3 linked regions of the Homo sapiens genome follow. The main gene of each other region encodes a partner of the protein of the gene in region 2 in a complex. Each region holds a gene or a part of one and is shown on either strand. Other genes may lie near its edges.

Region 1 (7,735 bases), on a different chromosome or scaffold from region 2:
GGATCCAGGACATCAAGTCTATAGCTTAGGTCTCATTGAGACCTCTTAATGACAATCACCCATGCAAAGAAGGAAGTAGAGCATCTGGGCTTACTGCTGTGAGGATGGAGTTAGCCTGAGCCTCAAGGTAGCAAAGGGAGCTCTGGGAATTCCTGCTGAGGCTGGTGCTCAGCACAGGGCACACAACCTGTGTCACTTGGAAACCAGGGGCAATCCAAGGCCTAGTTCACCCACAGAACCCCTGGCCACCTTCCTAGAGAGTAAAGGAGACCAAGCTCCCAGACTCTGAGCCCTGGATCTTTGACCCTTAATATCCTGTTTTATCCCAGAATAAAGCTCAGAGAGGCAGAATCTTGAGGGGGTTCAAGAGGCAAAAAGTAAGAGATCACTGAATCAGAGGCACCCTGTGGAACCCTGTGTGGCCAGACACACAGTTCTGCCCCCTGAAAGGGTGATGCCCTTCCCCTTTCATTCTCCTAGTCCTGCTCTACCCTGATTCCCAAGCTTTAATGCCAGGTACCTGCCCCTGCCAAGCTGAGTCCCATCACCTTCTCCTCTCTACCCTAAGCCAATCTCCAAGGACCACCAGTCCTTTACAAACTGCTTTCAGATGAATAATTGAGAGCTCAGGGGAAGGAAAAATTAACCCCTCCCTATCTTGGGACCATAAAAGCTTCTGGTCCCACAGCCAAATGTTTACCCCATGCGTGAATCCAGGGCAATCTTCCTAAAGAAGGCCAAGCAAGCACCAGGCTGTCTCCAGAGGCTCAGCCCCTGTCCCCCTGGTAAAACATACCAAAAAAGGAGCAATTACCCCATTGTTACTTTCTCTGTGTGTGGGGGTTGGGAGGTGAAAGGGGAGGACAAGTGTCCCACCAGATACCATATCCAAGGCCACACTGGCCATACCCACCCCACAACACTGCAGGAATGACCCACTCAAGTAGGCCTTCTCCACAGCTCATACAGCAGCATTCACCCCCTGACAGGAGCCAACACCTTCCGGAGCTGGCCTGGGTATGAATTCCTGCAACAGGCACAACAGTGCGGCCCCATTTCCAGCCAATGGCACTGCACATGCCTCAAATGCCAAGGTTTTACTAGGACGTGGACGCCTTACAAATGAAAAATCTGAAGCTATTTTTGTTTTTGGCAGAAGAGTTTGACAGTGGGAAAGATAGGGGGTGGGGGGAGGCTGGAAAAGAGGCATTCAAAACAGGTAAGCTCTGAAATGAAAAAGGTGACAAATCCTGGCAAAGGAAAACATTTTCCCCTGCTGTAAAAAGTCAGTTACTCCATTAAACAGCTTCTATTTTGGAGGTAAAAGGCCAAAAGGGGGTGGAGTGACCAGACAGCTTGTCCTGGGGTTTGACACCTAGCTGAGTACAGGCATAAGGCAGCAAAAAAAGTCATGTCACCAAGGTCTGTCCTTCAATGACCTCAGTGGAGAGCCTCTGGAAACTTACTTTCCACAATCTCACATCACATCCCCTAGCTCAGAATGGGGCTGGTCTGGGGGCAGAGGAAGGTGCCCATGACCCGGAGGGCTTCTCCTGTGTTCACAGGATTTTGGTAGGCAAAGCATGAAACTGACAAGGTGAACCAAGCTGGGGATCCTTGGGGGACAGGCTTGGGACACACGCACAGATCCTCTTCTCCAACGGTGCCACTCCTAGGCTAGCCAGGGCACTTTCCTGAACTCTTTTTCTCCAGCCTCCTCAAGAGCAAAAGGGAACAAGCTACTAACCTCTTTCTCTGGGGGGTCCCTTGTATACTTGCATTTTGTTGCATTCAAGTAGAGACGAGGAAAAAATAAACACATCAGTTCCCTTCCTGTGTGCCAACAGGTCCACATGGGGAAATGTACACATGCTTTGTATTGAATTCGTGGACACCCAGGAGCCCTTTCTACAGACAGTAAACATACAGGCTCCCTCGAAGTAAGGTAAACAAGGCATACATTTGACCATCACGTACATTCATGCAAAATACAGCAACGCATGCCTGGTCTTACAAACAGATCGCATTGTGCCTAGGACCCCGAGAAAGTTCAGACGCTCTCTCTTAAGAAATACGGACCCTTTTTCTTGCAGTGCGATTTCAGGTCTGGAACCTCAGCCTGTTGCTGACATATCAGGGCTGCCCGGGATAAAAGCAGAACATCTCGGATCCTATTCAAATGTCAACACTAAGCAAGCGCAGGAATTTAGTTGAGTCCAGGTAACTTTGCCCAGTCCCTTCCCGTCCCCCACCTCCAGTGTAAACACCTCGCAGAGTGAGTCTTTCGATCCCTCTCCCCGGGGCCGCGACGGCCCTTGGCGTCACGTAGAGACCTTTCCCAGAGCTCGCGGGGTGGAAGTGGCGTCGGGCAGGACCAGATGGACTGGCCCCCAGCCTCTGGTAGACACACCGCCGGCTCGCCGAGCTGGAGAACTTTGCGAAGCGCCCCAAACCGCTCCGGGTTTCCACTTTCAGCCATTTCTCTCCTTGTCCCCTCACCAAGAGCGGGGACGGAGCAAGCCTTCGCCACCTGTCTCTGGCACCCGCCGAGGGAAGACAGGCCAATGGAAAGAGGGCAGAGGTTCACACCCCACCCCCGAACCCCAGCGCCTGGCTGCCCGGAGGTGGCTCCACAGCCCGAGGGAACCGACGCCCCCGGGCCGGCTGTCTGCTCCCCCACGGCACGGGCCCCACCCCCAATCCTTCCGGCGCCCCAGCGCCCACCCACCCGGGCGCGGGAGTGGGAGGGTGCCGCGTGGGCAGCCGGAGCAACAGGCGTGGGAGCAGCGCTCCTCGCACTTCCTGGCTCCAGAAGGCTCGGTCGCGTCCCTCTTACCTTCCGCGAAGCCAGCCCGGGCCCCGCGCCCGGCGCCCCGCGCGCGCGAGGAAGCTGCGGCCGGGAGCCGGGGCCGCGGAGGCGCCGAGCGCCCAGCAGCGCGGGGAAGCGCCCAGCAGCCGCCGCTCGCGCGGCTCCTCCTCGCCAGCGCAGTCTCGCTCGCTGCCTCCCTCGCTCGGTCGGTTCGTGCGTCCGTCCGTCCGTGGGGCCCTCCCTCCCCCGCCGCCACTGCCGCCGCCACTGCCGCCGCCACTGCCGCCGCCGCCGCTGCCGCAGCCTCCGCCGCTCCAGCCCCGGCTCGGCAGCGCGTCCCCTCCCCGCCTCGCCGCTCCGCTCGCGGGCTCGCGGGCTCCCTCGCTCTCTCCCTTCCCCCGCCGCTGCCGGCGCCGCGCCGAGCGGAGCCCGGCCGGCCACGGGCTGCCTCTCCCGAGGTCCCTTTCCCGAGGGGGGGAGGTGGTGGGGGCGCGGCGCAGGCGGGGCGGGGAGGAGAGGAGAGTCCGGGGGAGGCGGCAAGGCTGCGCCCTCGGCTCCCCTCCGATCCCCGCGGGCCCAGCGGCCCCAGGCCGGGCCGGAGAGCGCCGAGCCGCCAGGCAGTGGAGGAAGAGAGGAGGAGGACCCGGAGTCTCGCCGCGGGAGGGTGCCCAGGGCGAGGGCGTGCGAGGGGGAGTGACTCCGCGCGCGAGGGTGTGTATGAGTGTGAGTGCGTGTGTGTGTGTCTGTGTGTGTGGAGAGGGGCGCGCGCGTGAGCGGGGGGTGGGGAGACGAGGCAGAGCCTAGTGCGTCTCCCCGGGCGAGTGGAGGAATCCTAGGGTGTGCCTGGAGGTGGCGGAGTGTACCGACGCGGGTGTGAGCGCGTGTGCCAGCGAGGGTGGGCACGGGGGTGAGCGTGGCAAGGTGAGCTGGGTTTGGGGGTGGGGGAGGAGCAGGGAGTACGGCGTGAGCGTAAGTTCGGGGGCGTGTGTGGCTGGGGACCCACGGAGAGGTGGCAGGGAGGGCCGGCGTGTGCGCGCGTGGGGTATGTGTGCACCTAGCTGTGTGTCTATTTCTCGCTGACTGTCCACAGGGCAGCAGCACCTGCTTGAGACCAAGCCCGGCGACCTGGCAAGGTGGGGCCCCCTACCGCGCAATCTTTGCGGCTGGCCCCCGGCTCTCAGCTCCGAGTGCAGAGGCTGAAGAGGTACCCGGGGGACACACTGCCTCTAACCCCACCTATGAGCCGCTCTCCTCTCGGAGGACGAAGGCACCATCAGAAGGTCGAGATTCGCCCTCCTCTCCCGCCACGTCTACCCACTACCTAGACCGGGAGTCTGGACTTGGGAGCGTGAACTCTCACCCGAGCCGGTCCCCTTACAACTGGAGCCCGCCCAGCCCCTCAGTCCCTCCCTGAAGCCCATGGGTCCCCACTGCTCCGTGCCTCGTCGACCCAGGATGGGGAGTGGGAAGGTCAGCATGTGCCCACAGGGCCAGGTGTCCGGCCCAGATTCCCACCCTCAGGGCGGCGGCGCGCAAAGGGCGCAGTCCCCGCCGCTGGGCGGACCCGCGGCTCCGGCTTTCCCGGTGTCTCCAGCCTCGGTGCCCGGAATCCTGGATCTCGGCCTGGCGCTCCGGAAGCGAGGCAGCTCCGTGCCCCAGCAGGGACGGGGAACGCTTGGCTTGAGAGATCACATTTCTGGGTGTGGAGAGGTGGGTGCCGAGGCAGAGAAATGCAAAGTGCGTTGTGACCTCTGGGGTGTTCTAGACTGCGAGGGTGTTCTAGACCCTAGGACAATTGTAGACCCAGGGCTGGAAAAGGACCTCCCTGAATCCGGAACGGGGCTTCTGGCTTGTGAGAACCCCTAGCCCTCTTCCAGATGAAGGAGTGGAAGTCGGTAATTGTGGTCTGGGCCCTTGTGGCCCCTGGCACCTTGGAGTCCCTCATTCACTCACTCTTACTTTTTCCGGAGCCCCCTTCAGTCTGTCAGTTTGAAAGGTACACAATTGGCCCTTCAGGAGGTGGGCGTGGGCTCCATTAGCGTTTGCCAGGAGTCCCGGAGCTGTGTGGGATTTGCATACAGTAATAATGATTAACAACACTGCCACTCCCTGGCAGACAGGGGAAGAATTCGGGGAAGGCCCTGGCGCTGCTCCCACCTCCCTCCTCCCTTTCCTCTGGGGAAGGGCTAATTTTCTGGCAACTGCACTCCTCAGTTGCTCTGACCCCTGGGATAAAGTGCCTCAGGTCCTGGGTGGTCACTACTCAGGAGGCAGGGGCACTTTCCTTCAGTACTCCATCCCATGTTCAATTCGGGAAAGTGAAACCCATATTTTATTTCTGCCCAGGTTTGAACTCCTGTACATTCTCACTGTTGTTTAGCATCTTGGGGGCAGCTCAGGGGTTGAGTGCCCCCCTCAGTGTTTGGAGGCTTCAGGAGACAGTTGGGCACATCATTTCTCCTCAGAAAGTCAACTAATGGGACAGTTGTGGCCTCCTGAGACTCGTAAGCTCCGTTTGAAGACCAGACACTGGTCCAGACACCTGCCCCCTCATTCCTCATAAGCTCGTAACTCATTGCTTAAGTGTGGTAGCTGTAGACTATTCTCTCCTTTCTGTCTTAACCATCTAGGGAAAATAGGAAAGACTGGGATTTCTAGTCTAGGCCAGTGTGGGTTTTGTTTACCAGTCCTTCCTACAACCAGGTGATCTGCAAAATGAGAGCAAGCGATGGGGAGAAAGGAGGCCCCTTGATTCGGGCAGCTGGAGTAGTCCTGCTGCCCAGGAGATGCTGTCCCTCCCACCAGTCCCCAGTCATCTATTGCATCTTTCCAGCACTGCCTGTCCTCACCTTCCCCCTCTGCCTCTGGTCCCGGCCTGGCCGGGATTTTCACTTGCTTTTCCCCCATGACACGGCCGCTTTTCCTTTAACTCTCAGCTTCTATTTAAAAAGCTAATTTGGGAGCTTGTCGATGCTCCCAATTCAGACATTTTAAATAGGAACTGAAAGTCAGGAGCTGCCAGGGCACTAGATTTCCTCCCGTTGCCACCAGCACAGCTGAGGCATTTGTTCAGTCACTCCTCTGGCCCTGGCCGTGTGTGTCTGTGTGTGTGAGCACCCGCGAGCTCAGGGTGTATTTCAGGCTATCTTTTCTATTTAAAGACGGTGCTCCTATGGATGACTATTCTTTCTCTGTGTGTGTGTCCTTTCCAAGCTGTGCACACATGAGGATTCTTCTTTAGTCTCATGGCTGTGGCCGGTATTTGCAAAGCTTGTCACCGTGTGGACTGTGAGGGTAATTGGGAGCCCAGCTCAAAGTCGGCTGCTTCTTTGCTGACGTGCCAGGCTAGTGTGTCTGCGTGGCTGTTTCCCAGGGCTGCTCTGTTCAGGCTCTCTCTTTGAAGCTATGCCTCATATGCCTGAGAATGTCCTTAAGGGTCACTCCCACCCTCACTGCTTATAGCTGTCCCATTTTAGCAATCTGCCCCATGCTGGGGCAAGAATTTTGGGGGTGGGCTGTACCTCTGAGGGTTACAGCCTTTCTACATTTAGGGTGCTATGTACCTTAGAAGTAAAAAGTACAGACTTTGAGGTGAGACTGCCTGGGTTTGAACCTGCGTCTGCTGTTAATTAGCTGTGTGATCATGTGGAAGGTACTTAATCCCTCTGTGCCATGATTTCTTCCTCTCTCAAATGGCAATAAATAATACTATCTACTTTATAGGGTTGTGAAAATTAAATGAAGTAACACAGATAAAGTGCTTAGAATCGTGCCTGGAACATGGGAAGTACAATATAATTGTTGGTTGTTGTTGTTCAAGGTAGGAGTGGTGCAGGCAGGAGGTGCAAAGAAATCTGTCTGAGGAGGAAGATAGAACTGCCGGATTGTACACAGAGACACATATAGTCACTCACCCACCCATGCATGTAACAATAAAAATGGCAGGCCACAGCCCACAGGCAGTCAAGTTCACCTTGCTGAGATAGTTAATTCTGTAAGTCCCAGAAAAGGGAGATTTCTGTTGAAGGAATAGAGGAAGAGTCTAGGGATAGAGATGAGGAAGGGGCTTGACCATGTCAGAAGCCCATGGGACATTTCTTGGGAGCCGATTTTATGCTGAAGAGTAAGTCCCGGGCCCCTCACTATCCATGTGGTCCCAGCCTCCCTTATTTAACCACTGAAAGCAAGGCCTTTTGAAAGTGAGCTCCAGCGAGAAACTCAGGAGGGTGGCACCTCATTCTCCCCAAGGCTCCCCTTGGGTTTGGGGTACTCTCACTTTCATACTGCCATTGCGTTCCATCCCTTATTCCCACAGCTGGGCATGTGAGCTTTTATTCAGTTGCTATTAGAGTTTATTTCACCTCGATGGGCCCGCAGGAAGCTGCTAGCAGGAAGAGGAGCTCTGAAGGACAGGAGGCTGTCCAAGGGATGAAAGCAACGTTGCAAATGCTTGGCTTAGCATATCAGCTGTAAGCTGAGGAGCCACCATATGTTGGGCTCCTTGCTAGATTTTCCATAATCCTGCACTGTAGATATTACCATCATTTTATTGATAGAGAACCTGAAGGTAGCTGGTGGAGAGGGACACTCCAGAAGGATGTGAGGCTGCATAGCTGGATTGGAACTCTGACCTCTCCCTTTTGCCGCTATCCCAGGATCCTTGGTTTCCCCGCTTCTGAAAGTAGAGTATCCTCCTCAGTCAGATAGAGGGGCTATCCTAAGAGGACACTCTTGACCTCTCCTGTATTTGGCCTCCATAAGTTATGTGTGGGGTTGACATAGTTTGAATATTTGTCCCCTCCAAATCTCATGTTAAAATGCAACCCCCAATGTTGGAGGTGGGCCTAGTGGGAGGTGTTCAGGTTATGGGGGCATATCCCTCATGCATGTCTTGGTGCCCTCCCCATGGTAATGAGTGAGTTCCTG
Region 2 (8,046 bases):
CCCTGGAGATCACTCTGCACTTGGATCCTGATAGGAGCTTGGAGAGGCAAGGGGACTTGGGAAGCAGGGTCCCTGATCTGATCCACTCCTCATCCCCAATCATAGCTGGGCTATAAATGTCTCCTTCACAATGTTCACACTCTTCCCTCCAGAACCCACCTCCTCCCAAGCCTTGGGTATGGAGCTGGTATATCCTCAGGAAATTCTGGAAACAGCCACATGCACAACCTGATACCCAGAGGCTCAGCCACATACTGTGCCACTCAGGCCTGGCCACATCCACCTTCTCACAAAGCCACATGCCCTGTCACTCTCACACATACAGTCATATCCCTGTCCCATACACAGGCTCACAGTTACACACTTTGTACTCTCTCACATACAGGAACACAAAGTCACACCCTGTGTCTCTCACACACTATGCCCACACACCCCATAAGCTACACTGCACAGATGGAGGTGTGGAGAGGATGCACAGGCACCGTGGTGGGCCCCTGACTCCAAAAAGGACCCCCCAGAAATCCGTTGTTATCTCAGGATCCCTAGAACCTCCCTCCTCTACTCTAGACACTCCTTCCCTATCTCCAGACCCCTCCTGGTATCGCCCAGAATCCCCTCACCTCCTCATCTCCACACCCCAGTCCTCCCACACTGCACCCCTCATCACCTCCTGACACCTTGGTCCCCCAGATTCCCTCCTCCCTCCATATCTACTCCTTGAGGCCTCCTCTTCACCCCTCCCAGATGTTGTATCCCCCAAGCACCCCTACTCACCTCCCAGATCCCTGTGCCATCACTCACCTGCTCATCCCTGCCCCAGTCATGAAGACAGACAAACACCCTCCCTAGTGCTGTGGGGCAGCTGCCCCACCAGCCAGCAGCTCAGACATGCCAGGACACCTGGATTACCTTCCAAGGAGACAGGCTCAAAGAGGCCAAACTGCTCCAGGACCTTGACAAACAGAGCGAGGACCACGAGCACAGCAACCATCTCCAGCCCTTCCAGGTTCATGGTGGGCCTGGGGCATGGCCCCTACAGGGCCCAGGTTCAGATACGCCGGTTCACCGCCTCACACCACCTCCCCCTCAGACTCCCCAGCCTGAGTAGGACTGCCTGCAGCCTCCCTCCCACTCTCCCTCCCAGGATCTCCTTCCTCTCCCCCATCACCCCGCCTCTGCCCCACAAGCCTCCCAACCACAGCCGCCGCCTCTTCCTCTTCGCAGGGCCACCTCAGCCTTTGGACTGGCACCTCCTTGGGAACTTTTGGCCAAGATATGGGCCAGAGGGAGGGAGCAGTGACCCGCCTCTGTCCCTGAGAAGTGCTTCCCCTAGACATCCTGTGGCTACTCTGTGCCAAAGGGAAGGGGCAGAGGGAGGAGCTGAGCTTAGGGAGAAGGCAGGGAAGGGCAGGGTGTATGTGCATGAGAAACCACCATCTGCACATGTATAAGTAATCAGATGCATGGGTCAGAATATGTTGTGGTGGCCAGGTGTTTTCCTGTGTGTATATTCCTGTGTTTGTCAGTATGGCAGTGCATATGTCTCCTCTTATGTGTGTCTTTGTGTGCTTACACGTGACTGTGCACCTGTCACAGAGGTGTGTGTTTGGCGTATGGTTATGCATTTTGACTCTTGCGTATATGGGTATGTGAGCTGGGTGTCTATGGTCTGCATGTGTAGGAGTGTGTTGAAGTATTTGTGAGTGTGCATGGGGAGTGAGGTTCCTGTGTTTTAGTAGGGTTGTAGGATGTGGGTCTGAAGTTTGTTAGGTATGGATGTGTTGTATAATTTGGAGGGTGGGTCTACTGTTTTGTCATTGTATTGGCATGGAATTGTATGAGAATAATGGCGGAGAAGGCAGTGACCTCTCCTGCTAGGAGGATATCACCAATATCGATTTGGTTGCCATGGAGACTGTGAGGAGGGAAGCACTCTCTTCCCACAGGCCACAGGCAGTGAAACTGAGGCCCAAGGGAGGGGGGATAAGATACAGTAGTAGCCTAGGCAGAAAAAGGCCACTTAACCCCATCAGGACCCTCTGGGGAGGGGACTTACTGCAGCTGCCTTTGGGGTCAAGAAACCCAAGCTTCTTGGGAGAGGAGGGGGGACTGTGCTGGCTCCGTATGTGGCTGGGACCTCATCCGGGAGATGCTAAAGCCCTGCCTGCTCCTTAGGAACTGTTATTGAGCTGATGGAGAAGCCCAGCTGCTGTAGGAGGGAAATCTGAACCTTCTAAGGGAGCCACCCCTCCCAGCCAGCATCCCCGGAGTCCCTCCCTCCTCTTCCCTGCTTCTTCTTGGTGGGGTGTTTGTGTGTGTAAAGGGGTGGGGAGAGGCCTACAGAGCCAATGAGCCACAAGACTAGGGCCTCTGGGTTAGTAACACCATTACTACCGCTGCTGGCTAACGGTGACTGAGCATTCACTATGTACTAGATAATGCACTATGTGCTTACAGGTGTTGTAACACCGAATTTTCACAATAAGCCTATGAAGGCATACTATTATCCTCATATTACAGGTGGTGAAACTAAGTCAAAGAGAAGTTAAGCAAATCTTCAAGATCAGAGCTTCAATTTTAACCCAGTCTGACTCAGCCTTCACTCTAAACCACCACACTACACTGGCTCCCTTCTTAGAAAGCTGGCCCAGCCAGGAGGCCCAATTTAGGGGGATTGGCCCCAGAAGGAGCCCTCCCTCTTGTCCAGCTCTGGGATGACTGTGTCTCAGCCCAATTTGTGGGGTGGGGGCCAGTCCCTAAGGCCCCAGTCGAGGTTGGCTGATCTGCAGTTCTATACAGCCACCACCGGGGGGCACGCGTCCAACCTCACACAGTACCATACACCTTCCTTCTCCCCGACCTGCCCCATCCAGGGAAGAGGTGGGAAGATGACGCTTCACACAGGCTTTTTTTTCTCTTTTTTTTTTTTTTTTTTTTTGAGACAGAGTCTCGTTCTATCACCCAGGCTAAAGTGCGGTGGCGCTAGCGATTCTCGTGCCTCAGCCACCGAATAGCTGGGATTACAGGCGTGCACCACCACGCCCAGCTGATTTTTATATTTTTAAATAGGGTTTTGTCATGCTGGCCAGGCTGGTCTCGAACTCCTGGCCTGAAGTGATCTGCCCCCGTCGGCATCCCAAAGTGCTGGAATTCCAGGCGTGTGCCACCGCGTCTGGCCTCAAATAGGCTTGGTCTGTTCCACTCCTTTCCCCTAGGAAAAAGTCTATTTAGGGATTGCTTGCCAATCCCTAAAGGTTGGATCAGGAGTCCCAGACCAGCCTGGGCAACATGGCGAAACTCTGTCTCTACAAAAAATTAGCCTGGGCTGGGCAAGGTGGCTCATGCCTGTAATCCCAGCACTCTGGGAGGTCGAGGCAGGTGGATCACGAGGTCAGGAGTTTGAGACCAGCCTGGCCAAAATGGTGAAACCCTGTCTCTACTAAAAATACAAAAATTAGCCGGGCGTGGTGGCACACACCTGTAATCCCAGCTACTTGGGAGGCTGAGGCAGGAGAAGTGCTTGAACCCAGGAGGTGGAGGTTGCAGTGAGCCGAGATCACGCCACTGCACTCCAGCCTGAGCAACAGAGCGAGACTCTGTCTCAAAAAAAAAATAATAATAATTAGCCTGGCGTGGTGGCACACACCTATAGTCCCAGCTACCTGGGAGGCTAAGGTGGGGAGTTTGAGGCTGCAATGAGCCATGATTGTGCCACTGTACTTCAGCCTAGATGACAAAGTGAGACCCCATCTCAAAATAAACAAATAAACAAAGATAATATTTATCCAGCACATTTTGTGTCCTGGATACTTTACATGTAGTATCTCACTTAGTCCTCATAATAAACCTGAGAGGTAGGATCTATTATTCCTGTTTTTACAGCTGACATGGTCAGAGTGAGTGATAGTATACCCATTTTGCAGATGAAGGAATTGAAGCTCCCCGCCAAGATAAGCTCCCTGCTTATCTTGGGAAAAAAGAGTGATTTTTTTTCCAAGATAACAGCTGACATGCTAATTAAGAATGAGTTTGGCTGGGTGCAGTGGCTCACGCCTATAATCCCAGCACTTTGGGAGGCCGAGGCGGGTGGATCACAAGGTCAGGAGTTCAAGACCAGCCTGACTCACATGGTGAAACCCCGTCTCTACTAAAAATACAAAAATTAGCCAGGCGTGATGGTGCTTGCCTGTAATCCCAGCTACTCAGGAGGCTAAGGCAGAATTGCTTGAACCTGGGAGGCGGAGGTTGCAGTGAACTGAGATCACGCTACTTCACTCCAGTCTGACTGAAAGAGCAAAACTCTGTCTCAATAATAATAATAATGATAATAATAATGAGTTGTTTAACCAGAGTCAGTGATCTGTCAGCTCCCTCAGGCAGTCTCTCCAATATGTGCGGGGTGTCAAGGAATCCTAGGGCCTACAGCTTAGTTTAGGTAAGGGAGCTATGGGTAATAAAATCAAAAAGGGTCAAATTCCATGAAACCTTGAATGCCAAGCCAGACTATTTGAATGGAAAGGGGCCCCACAACAGCCCCTTCTTGCTCCCTGCTACTGATAACTTGCAGCCAGTTGCCCTGGACCTGGCCCTGGCCCTGGCCCCTCCTTTTCCTAACTCCCACTCTCAACTCTCAGAGACCTTGACCCAGCCTTGCCAGGACTCATGGTCCTAAATCAGCCAGGCATCCTGTGGCAGAGTCTGTCAGGAGTGAAAGGATGAGTTATTTTTCCAGGCTGTCCCTTCTCCCCACTCAGAGACTTCTCAAGTCCTCGGGTTCAGTGAGAAACTTGCCAGATCCATCCTCCCCAAGCATCCCTGTGCCACGAATTTAGCTCTTCACTCAAAGTAAAATCTCTGTGGAAGCAATTTGGCAGAGTGGGAACTCAAGGGAAAACCATCTCGAGGCATGAGGTGGGCCTTCCCCAGATCCCTCAAATCTTACCACAGAGATATTCCTATCATTTATTTATTTATCTCCCCCAGTTCAAATGTGAGTAACACTGCCTTGTGGGGGAACCCACTCTATGCAACTGTCCCACCTTCCCCAGTTTAGCTTTGTCCCACCCCCCACCGCCACTGTTAACCCAGCCAGTGAAGACCTCAAAGCCCTTCTCTCAGTCCCCCAGACCCACACCATTCCCAGCTAGGCCAAAGACACTGCAGCCCCCAGCTGCATCGAGTGATTAATGACCTCCCTAGACGTTGGGGCTATTTTGGGTCCTGGAAGTCATGCCTGCAATGACTGAGAGCTGGCCCTGCCTGGCTCCAGCCATCTGTCACTGGAGACAGGCCCAAGCAGGGGGCTTGGAGGTTGTATGCTCCCCAGAAGATTTCCAGGTATGGTTCTGGCTCAGGACCATCCATCTACCCTCCTTTTGGGGGACAGATGGCAAGGAGAGGCCACAGGCCCTATCTATACTCCAGGGGCTCAAGTGGATACCCATGGAGAGAGCCAGAAAATGACAGATCTCAGAATGCCACAGGACCAGGTTGTTTTGGTCTGTTTGAGGTCAGGTACAGAGGAGACGTTGCGTTCTATGGGCCCTGCCCAAGCAGTCATAAGGAAATGCAAGTGGAGATGTGCATACACCTCAGCAGTGCCGTGGGATACTCAACAATCCACACCTCATACACTCCACAAATTTCACACCAAGGTACAACCTCACGAAGGCTACACAACCAACTTAGAGGCTCAGGAACCCTCAACCCAGTCCTAAAGTACAGAACTCCAGGTACACACAGTCTCAGTGTCACAGAATCCCAGTGATCACAACCCCAGGGAGACACAGACTCAGCCATACATAGCCCAGTGATGCACAACTTAGTAATGCACAATCCCATTAATACACACTCCCAGAGAGAGAGAAAACAGAGACATACAATCCTTAAGCCACACAAGTCTATCAGTCCCATGTCATGTATGAACTTGCTAGCTGAGTTCATGTTGGTCTAGGCCCATCTCAGGGTTTTTTCCTTCTGGACACTGAACCCTTCATCTTAAGACCCCTTCAGCCAAGAAATGCAGGAAAGGACTGAACTTTTTCCCTGCTCTGCTGCAGGCCTCCTCCTTTCATCCCTGGGAGGCGCCCTGCCCCTCAGTTAAGGCCCCCTCCTCTGCCTTCGGTGAGAAGCCCCGCCCCCTCCACCATTGTGAGGGACCTTGATGCCCCTCTCCTTTCCTCTTTGAAGAGCGCTGTCTTCCTCCTGCTCAGTAAGGAGGCCCATCCCCTGCTCCGCTTCTGTCCAGGATCTCGTCTTGGAAGCCCTTTCCTTGGAGGGATGTTGCTCCCTCCATCTATTTGAGGGGCCCTTCCCTCCCTACCTCTGCGGAGCTCCTAACCCACTTCGCTCACTTTTTGAAGGATCCTGCCCCTCCCTTCCCTTCCTCATCATACCTGGGGACAGCGACCCAGTCACCAGCTGGTAGAGGGATCGCGCTGCCTGCCCCAGCGGGCTCCGGCACCTGCGGGGGCATCGGTTCATGGTTTGGCGGCGAGCTCGGCGTCTAAGCTCCACCCCCAGGCCCCGGGGCGGTCCGGTCTCCGCCCTCACCCGGGTAGGCCCGCGTGGGCGGCGCGGGAGGGCCGGCCCGGCAGGCATAGGATCGAAACCCTGGAGCCTTCCCATGTTCTCCTGGCCGCACGAGAGGAGCTCACCCTGGCCCCATCATGTGAAGCAGCCGCCCCCAAAGTTCCTGGACGGGGGGGGGGGGTGGCGGGGAGGGGCGGCGCGGACTCAGCCTTCTCAGGGAGCATTTTTCTGGGTTCTGGCGGGGAGGCCAGGCAGGCACATGTGGGTTTTGAGAAAAGAGCTGGATGGGGAATGAACCGTATCTTTTATTGCCCCCTTTCAGCCCCCCTTTCTCCGCCTGTCGCACTCCTCCCCGCACCCTGCACCCCGCCCCCACCATTTTGGCATAAAGAGCCGAAGGGGTAAGAGGACAGAGTTGTCATGGCAACTCCCCACACTTCCTGGGCCAATGGAAGAAAGCCAGGAGGAAGGAGAAAGAGGCCAGTGTATTGGGGTGGCAAAGAAGAGGCAGCAGAGTTGTGCCCCACTGCCTTCTGTCTCCTGGCTCCAAATTCCTTGCTCTCATAACTGTTTCTATTTGTGTTTGTCTCGGTGCGGCAGGTTCACAGACTACCACCATACGCTGGCTACAGCCGAATGCTTCGAGAAGAGCCCCCCCCGCACCCCCCCCCCACTTCGGTCCCGCTGCGCCCCTTTCCTGGACTCCGGACTCATCTCTATCAGGTTAGACCCCAAGTAAACACTTCCAGGACTCTCTAACGCCTTAAAATTCCTGGGAAAGCCTACGGGAGAGATATAGTCCCGCTCTTTCGACTGGGATCCCGCATGATTGGTTGAAAACCCTACATTTAAGTGGTGAGAATGACCTCCTAACTCTGGGCAAATCTTGTCCACTTGACGGCGACTATCCCCACCGCAAAGCAGCTCCGTGCGCATGGCTCCTCGCAGCCACACGGGGGCGCCCCCGCCCCGGCAACAATACTCAGGGCCGGAGGGACTCCACTGAGATCCCAGTCGGGGGACCGAGCTCAGGGCTAGCCAGCCAGGCTCCAACCCTCTCCGCATCTTCTCTTGGCCTTTCTCTCTTCCGCTCAGACAGGGCCGCTGCTAAACGCGGCCTTTCCCCTCGGAACCGCACTGCCCAGCGGCCCCGCCGGGCTGGGAAGACCTGAGGGATTAGACAGGGGTCCGGGCGGGGCTCGGACTGTTTTTTGTTTTGTTTTGTTTTCCTAAAGAGTCTCTCCCAGCTCCCTTTTGAGCTTGGGGTGGGAGTGGGGAAGTAAAATGTTCGGAGGTACCCAGGATGCCCTGAGGTGTAACTTTCCAGCTGCTTCCCTGCAAGCCTGATGGGCCGGGAAGACGGGAGCTGCAGACTACCCTAAATCCGATCCCAGGAATCCCAACTGCAGGGAAGGGGAGGCGAAGCCTGGCGCGCGCTTCAGCACCGCGGACAACGACTCCCCTTCATGCTTCAGCTTAGGCATCTCTCAGCGCTCAGAGCTCAGCGCCGCCCGC
Region 3 (6,709 bases), on a different chromosome or scaffold from region 2:
TTTTATAATTATCTTAAGCAAACTTGCTGTTCAAAGCTAGTAATTCCTTAGAAGTAAAAAATCAAACTCTGTAAAGAATATTTTAGTATCCTAATACAACCAGCTGAAGTAGATAAGACTTAAACCTTCGTAGGTACAATTTAAACCTTCATTAAAAAAATACTGTGTGCCTACACAATTGTGTTGAAAATTCAGATGTTTACACAGTGCAGAGTAATAACCATTCTTGTACCAGTGAGTTAATAAAACAAACACCTTAATGACACTGTAGGGAAGAGAAGATGCCTTTCTTATGAAACTCTAAGGAGTTATCAATTTACTTTCAAGAACCCTTTTTTATTCTTTTGAGCAATGTTACTGGCAGACACATTATAGCTCCCAAGAGGCTATTTCTAAGCCAACATTGTGACTAAGTTGAAGGAATAGGGAGGCATATTGAACTTTTTAATGCAAGATTGATACCTAATAAATCAAAGGCTATAAATGAAAATAATTAACAAGAAAAGATAGAGACTATCCACCAAGAGGACCATATATATCACCAGTTAAAATCAGTCTTTCTACTAAATAATTTCCTTTGTGTCTTTTTCCTTCTTCTATAAACTCTTAACATTTTCTTGCTTTTTAGCCCTTTCAAGATATTAAGAGAAACCATTAGTGGTTGCATATTAAAAATGAATGAAAATCTATGTATATGTGTATGAACAAATTTATATCTACATATACACATACATGCACACAAATGGCTAGGCAAATAAATCACCCCGCTTTCCTAGGTAGAATAAAGCCTTTGATTAAGAATTTATTTAAGTTCTGACCAAAACCATTACCCCTGAGCTTCTCTGCTTAATGCAAGTAGTGGTGTTTAAGAAGTATATAAGGTTCAGGGACTGGCTTTCCTTAATTGATACTATCTTTTCTGTTAAAGTCCCTGCCTTAATTCCCATTACTAGCAAAAGCTACTGTCTCCACCCATTCAGATGAGATTTAAGCATTACTTTCAATTGCTGTGTCCTTTGAGTTGTATGTCTCACAAGGTCCTCCAACATGTGTATTATGAGTGTGGCATATCCTAATTTTGGGAAAGGAATGAAATCTAAGAAAATAGGGCAACAGTCAACATTTTGTCCTGTTCAAGCATGCACATGTTTTATTTAAGTATTCTCCAAAGGTCTATTTTTTTCCAGCATAATGCAGATATTATGCTATCCTTTGAAATAAGATATATGAATTTCAAACAAAATTGTCAAAAACAATGACCTTAGTTACTCCATATGGTACACAGAAATAATTACATTTCACTTACAATACAGATGCACTTAACACAGTCATCAATAGTCATTCACCACCAACACGGTATATTTTTAAATCACCTAAAACATCAAAAAGTTTTTTTTCTTTTCCAAAAGCCTAATAAAATTAATAATTTTGGGTAAGTGATAAATCAAAAGAGGAGGCAGAATTGTCAATTGAAATAACCTAACTGCATTTTCTTGTATGTAATATTAAGAACATGAAAATAGAACTTCTCATTGGGAATCAAAAGACATAGTAATTCTGATTATGGTTTCCTTAGTCTACTTTTTAGAAGGTTTTCAATAAATGCCATCAGATAAGTTTCACTAGACATTGCTCTAGAAGCATAAACTGACATGAGGCAGGTGTTAATATAATTGTTAATATTTGTACTGCTGGAAAATTAGTAACTTTTTAAAAGATGTACTAGGAATGAAGCCAGTTCTTCCCAAGAGATAGTTGAGTTTATCTTACTTTCACTCAGCAAATGTTTATTAAGATCTAATATGTGCATAGCACTGTTCTAGAAACTATTCTAGAAATGGGAAGCAAGAATTTCTGGCTTTACTAGAAAATGGTTGGATTAATCCCTTTTTATGATTAAATATCATAAGCATTTAAAAATCTCATCTCTGACAGAGGGATAATTATTAGCTCTTTCCATGTACAGAAGCTAAGCTTTATTCCTTACAGTGGTGGCTTGGAATGAATAAAAACTTTGCATTTGACATTAAACTTTTTTACACTGTCATGTGCAGACATGTCTGCTGAAATATTTTAAGGGTGAAAAGTTATAAAGACTTTTCACTTAAATGTACAGAGATCAACTTTGCATCATCAAACTCCTGTTCTCCTGATTTATTGGAGAAAATTGTACCTTGCAATACACAGGAACCTTTCTGAGATAAATTTGTGCTGCCTTCCTGAATGGCGTAGAAAGCATGCTTTCATCAAATATTGCTAAATAAAGCACTCCAGTGTATCTCTACATTTCAATCCACATTAGTTATTCTCAAAATGTATTCAAGATCTAAAGCAAAATAAATAATGCATCAAGTAAGATTCTGAGATGATTGATCCTGTGATATTAGTCCCAGTCAATTCTGTTCATAAAATACATAGTGATATATCCAGTATCTGGGCTTTTCCATAAACAACAAAGACGTTAGAGATAATTTATATGGGTCAACTCCTTTTTTTCTAGTTTTCGACAAGGGGATTGATGACAAGCTACTTACAAGATAATTTTTTTTGGAAATACAAAAGTAGGAAAGTCACTTGAACTACAGTAAACAGTAGTCTTGTTGATGATGATAAACCCAATAGAGAGGTGCTATAGAAATACAAGAACAGATAATGCACTGTGTCACAGGAATACAGTGGACCAAAAAATATTACTGAAAAACATTTATGGCACAATAGTTTTGGATTAAAAAGTTACCTAAAACCTGGCCACACCAGAAGTTTTTCTACGAATGTGGCTCTTACCGTATCTATAAGGATCTGGAAAGTACAACAACAAAAAAATCCTGATTCCTGATACAACAGTTGTACAACAAATTATTGCAGTTGTAACAGTATCTAGGTGCAAAGTTAAACGATAATGAATACTGAACTATCTGAACACTTTAGATTTACTAATGAGCATCCCCATGAGAAATACTGCAGGTCTAAAAGGAGTTTATTTGCACAGCCCACCATGGAACATGAACACTCAGCTTGTTGTAAGTGCACAGAAATTACCCCTTTCTACAATTATAGTTTATCATGCCTATTCTGAAGACAACATAAGGAAACTGAGATCACTGCTTCAAAGAATTCTAGCATGCATTATGATGGTTTCCTTCAGTCAATACAAATATGTTGTGTGAGTTTTTTTTTCATATGTAATAATCTTCATCATAGCCAATGTTCATGGTTTTAACAGGAAAAAATTTTATCAAAATGTTTTCCATATTTTTTTTGTTTTGCATTCAACTGGAACATTATGTTCAACGATTTATGTTATTTATTTTATTAAAAAAGAGTTCTGATCATAAGAAGCATCAGTAGGCGGCATTTCATTGTGCTCATTCACAAAGTCAAAGGGCCACAGAATATTACTCTGTATAACAGGTCAAACTGTCTAGAAATGCCATTTGGTGGTTTTATTCACATCCTTAAGATTGGAAGCTTTGTGTTTCACTACCAACCTTCTTTCTTTGCTGCATTAATCTGCAGAATATTTATTGTTTCTTCTTTCTTCTATGTTGAGATTCTTTTCACAGCCAGGGCTCGAATTCTCTTAGACCTTATTCCAATTGTCTTACAAAGCAGAAACTCTGACAATATTTCCTCCTGAGTACTCAGGGGATTCTGGCCTATCGTCTCCTTCTGGTGTGGTTACTGGAGGTGTTGGGATGCTTATTATTGCTGTAGTCACATAAGGTTGTTCACAGTTTAGTTTAACACACTCTTCCATTTTGGCATTTAAACTGGATCGGCTGATAGAAAAAAAAATATTTAGGAAAGTAAGTTGTTTACTTAAAATGTTTTTCATACAACTGAAGAATATGTGTTGTAATGCTTATAAAAATATTTTAATTGTCTAAGGAAAGTTATTATAATTAAAAATATGAAACACCAAATCTTAATCTATGTTAAAGATGAACATAGTAATTAACATTAAATAAATTTCTAAAAGACAGTTTGACTTGGTTCCATCAAGTATTTATCAAACTAAATGTATTATAAAAAAATGTAAGAAAGAAAGAGCTTCAAGTAAGATTTGGACAGCCTGGGCTGAGCAAAGAAGTTTTATTTAAGACAGACCTCTGAGAGGTTTGAGAAACCACTATGAAAGAGCCATATCACATTGATTTCTTAATTCCTTTGACCACAGAATATTTTTATTTTCATGTCTTTTTGGGATATATAATGCCCTCAAACCTCTGAACTTAATGATGATCACATATTACAGAAATAAAAAAATTATCTATTACTATCTAACACTTCAAGCTCCCAAATGGTATTATTGGATGAATTGTATACTCTATGTGGGGAAGGGGATAAAAGGGAAATGAGAGAGAAGGATATACACAGAAGCTTGAAACTGATTATTTTATTTTCATGGAAAACATAATTAAGATGTTTATGTCCTAAGATTTTCTTGCTAGATAATTTTCCATTGTCGACTTCACTTTATAAAGGATATAAAACTGCAAAGCTAAAATATCTTGAAGATAGAAGTCTTATGGCTCCTAATTTTAATTTTCTAGTCCCAGAGACATCCAATTTATGTAAATCAACATCACCTGAATTCAGAATCTCATCCAGATTTCAACAAAGACTTCTGAATGCCAACAAAGAAGAGGACTGAATTTACAGACTCTCACTCTAACAATATATGCTGTTCAATTTGAAAACAGAATAAAATTATTTTGGCAGAAACTGATTTTTAATGACATATATTGTTTAAATGTACAACTTTTTATTTTTACACATTTGTGGTAAAAACAGTGAATAAGGAAAAGCAAAGGAAATATATCAATATGGAAGTTTTACTTAATTTGTTCATAAACTAACCAGAGGCAAACAATTTTAGTACTTCACTTATTTTTTGTATTATGTTGATTTTGTGTTTGATATGGCCAAAAATACCTTTCTGATCAAAATTATATATTGATAGAAATGACTTATGTAGGCAAAGTTTTCATTTTTACTGTTACAGACAGTGTGTTTGTATATTTTTACATGCTGTTCAATAATTTTTAGCCATGTTGATCTCAATTTCATTTGACTCTTTTAGTAGTGTCCACCATCATTTCAGACTATTGAATATATAAGAGACTCCTGAGTATAAAAGTCCTTGCCCAAATAAGAAAAGGTTGTGGAACAGAAGAGAGAAAAACACATTTGTGTGCACTCAATCATCTCTTCTTCTTTCGACTCTTTTAATACTGATATAACCACTATTTTTAACCCTTAATGGATATGCAAGCAGAACCATTTTCCTACTTGTTACGCTACCATTTTTGTCTCTTCCTGAACCATAGGAGCTAGGGATTTAGATGCCATGTAAGTGACAACATGAGTGCAGAAGACACACCCTGGGAACCAGCACAGGTGTGTAGACAACACAGATTAATCTCAGGTACCTGTTAGACAGAGGTGTTCTCTCCACACATCTGATCTGAATCGTGCTGAGTTCTTGTATACTACCTTGATGGCTTCCTGATACATTGGCATTTGGGATGCGAAAAGTTTTTTTGTGTCGTCGTGAACAGCAGGTGCTGGTGACTCCTTGTTGTGAAGACAGTGAAGGACTGTGACTTGAAGGACGATTAACAGTTGCAACTTCCATGCAGCTTTCTTCAAAGACTTGTTCGTCCACAAACTCGTGATTCTGTTCCACAGTTGTAAGTAAATGAAGAAACAGAGAAGCACATTTTTAAAAACGAAATACATAGCTTTATTTTTAAAGCTCAAATCTGCCCAAGTATAGTTAGACTTGATACAATGGTTAAATAAAACCATTTTCATAAAGATTGACATCAAAACCACTTCTTTTTGGCATTTATGTGGAACTATCTCTGTAGTTAAACCTAGAGATTGACATCTGTAGGCTGATTTAGTGTCCCTTTATAGACTAACTTTATCTTGAAATATCATTTATTTATTTAAACATAAAATCTGGAAGGTATATGATAAGGAAAAAAAAAACCTAAAAAATGCATATAGATAAAACCCACAGGGAAATTAGAAATTCCCACTGACTTTATTTTTTAAAAAGGTTGAAGTTATGGAAAATAGATTATTTTAATAGGATGCCCCAAGTTAGATTGTCTGTTATATATTAGCAAATCTTTTCACATGGGAGTGAAAACATTTCTAAATTAGAAAATGAGACCCCTAAGACACTATCCATTTCTTTATATGTTCCTCTAAAAATGCCCAGTACAGAAAAATATGACTTATTCGTTACATAAGTAAAATATAATTGTCTGCCGAATGTGTCACTCTGTGTTCGACCCAGAAGGGATTAGCATTGAACTTTTGTGGCCTTTTTTGTAATCTTCGTAATACATCACTGGCATCACTGGCTGTACTCATGATCTCTGTATGCATTTGGGGTTTTTCCGTCACTATTTCCTAACTTCCAGCCCAGTAGCAAATAGCAATAGGCATCATTTCGCATATCGTATTTTATAGAAACATGGTATCAATTTTGCTTTTAAAATGTTTGACAAAAAACCTCCTGAAATGCCTATGGAAGAATTTCACCTCAGAAATATAAAGGAAAACATTTTTGGTCTGAACTACTAGAGAATGACCTCAATTACTATTTTGTTTTTCTTTGCATGGGTGGGGATAGTCTTATAATGGAAGGCTTTGCACATACCAAATTCCACTTAACCATCTCTCATCCTAAAAT

The links.
Region 1: the proteins of KCNIP2 (region 2) and KCND3 are in contact, whole or in part, in a cryo-EM structure (PDB 7W6S), measured with the Homo sapiens proteins. Residues at the interface, in NP_775283.1 of Homo sapiens: Arg112, Gly113, Phe114, Asn116, Glu117, Cys118, Val123, Phe128, Ile131, Tyr132, Gln134, Phe135, Phe136, Tyr144, Leu148, Phe152, Phe165, Leu169, Ile172, Leu173, Arg180, Trp183, Ala184, Leu187, Tyr188, Met201, Met205, Ile208, Met211, His228; in NP_001365898.1 of Homo sapiens: Val5, Ala7, Trp8, Leu9, Phe11, Ala12, Arg13, Ala14, Ala15, Ala16, Ile17, Gly18, Trp19, Met20, Pro21, Val22, Ala23, Asn24, Cys25, Pro26, Met27, Pro28, Leu29, Ala30, Pro31, Asp33, Trp54, Arg60.
Region 3: the proteins of KCNIP2 (region 2) and KCND2 are in contact, whole or in part, in a cryo-EM structure (PDB 7UKH), measured with the Homo sapiens proteins. Residues at the interface, in NP_775283.1 of Homo sapiens: Arg112, Gly113, Phe114, Asn116, Glu117, Cys118, Val123, Phe128, Ile131, Tyr132, Gln134, Phe135, Phe136, Tyr144, Leu148, Phe152, Phe165, Leu169, Ile172, Leu173, Arg180, Trp183, Ala184, Leu187, Tyr188, Met201, Met205, Ile208, Met211, His228; in NP_036413.1 of Homo sapiens: Val5, Ala7, Trp8, Leu9, Pro10, Phe11, Ala12, Arg13, Ala14, Ala15, Ile17, Gly18, Trp19, Met20, Pro21, Val22, Ala23, Ser24, Gly25, Pro26, Met27, Pro28, Ala29, Pro30, Trp55, Asp57, Arg61, Arg100.

Annotation. Positions count from the first base shown.
Region 1 is NC_000001.11:111,986,669-111,994,403, forward strand, and holds the start of KCND3 (A-type voltage-gated potassium channel KCND3), read right to left. Parts: upstream 3,001-7,735; 5' UTR 2,837-3,000; intron 2,507-2,836; exon of another isoform or gene 2,080-2,506; intron 1-2,079. UniProt on the Homo sapiens protein: Pore-forming (alpha) subunit of voltage-gated A-type potassium channels that mediates transmembrane potassium transport in excitable membranes, in brain and heart. In cardiomyocytes, may generate the transient outward potassium current I(To).
Region 2 is NC_000010.11:101,833,358-101,841,403, forward strand, and holds part of KCNIP2 (A-type potassium channel modulatory protein KCNIP2), read right to left. Parts: intron 6,515-8,046; exon of another isoform or gene 6,484-6,514; coding exon of another isoform or gene 6,396-6,483; intron 1,067-6,395; exon of another isoform or gene 1,013-1,066; coding exon of another isoform or gene 910-1,012; intron 1-909. UniProt on the Homo sapiens protein: Regulatory subunit of Kv4/D (Shal)-type voltage-gated rapidly inactivating A-type potassium channels. Modulates channel density, inactivation kinetics and rate of recovery from inactivation in a calcium-dependent and isoform-specific manner.
Region 3 is NC_000007.14:120,744,751-120,751,459, reverse strand, and holds the end of KCND2 (A-type voltage-gated potassium channel KCND2), read right to left. Parts: intron 5,681-6,709; coding exon 5,433-5,680; intron 3,780-5,432; coding exon 3,602-3,779; 3' UTR 1,123-3,601; downstream 1-1,122. UniProt on the Homo sapiens protein: Voltage-gated potassium channel that mediates transmembrane potassium transport in excitable membranes, primarily in the brain. Mediates the major part of the dendritic A-type current I(SA) in brain neurons.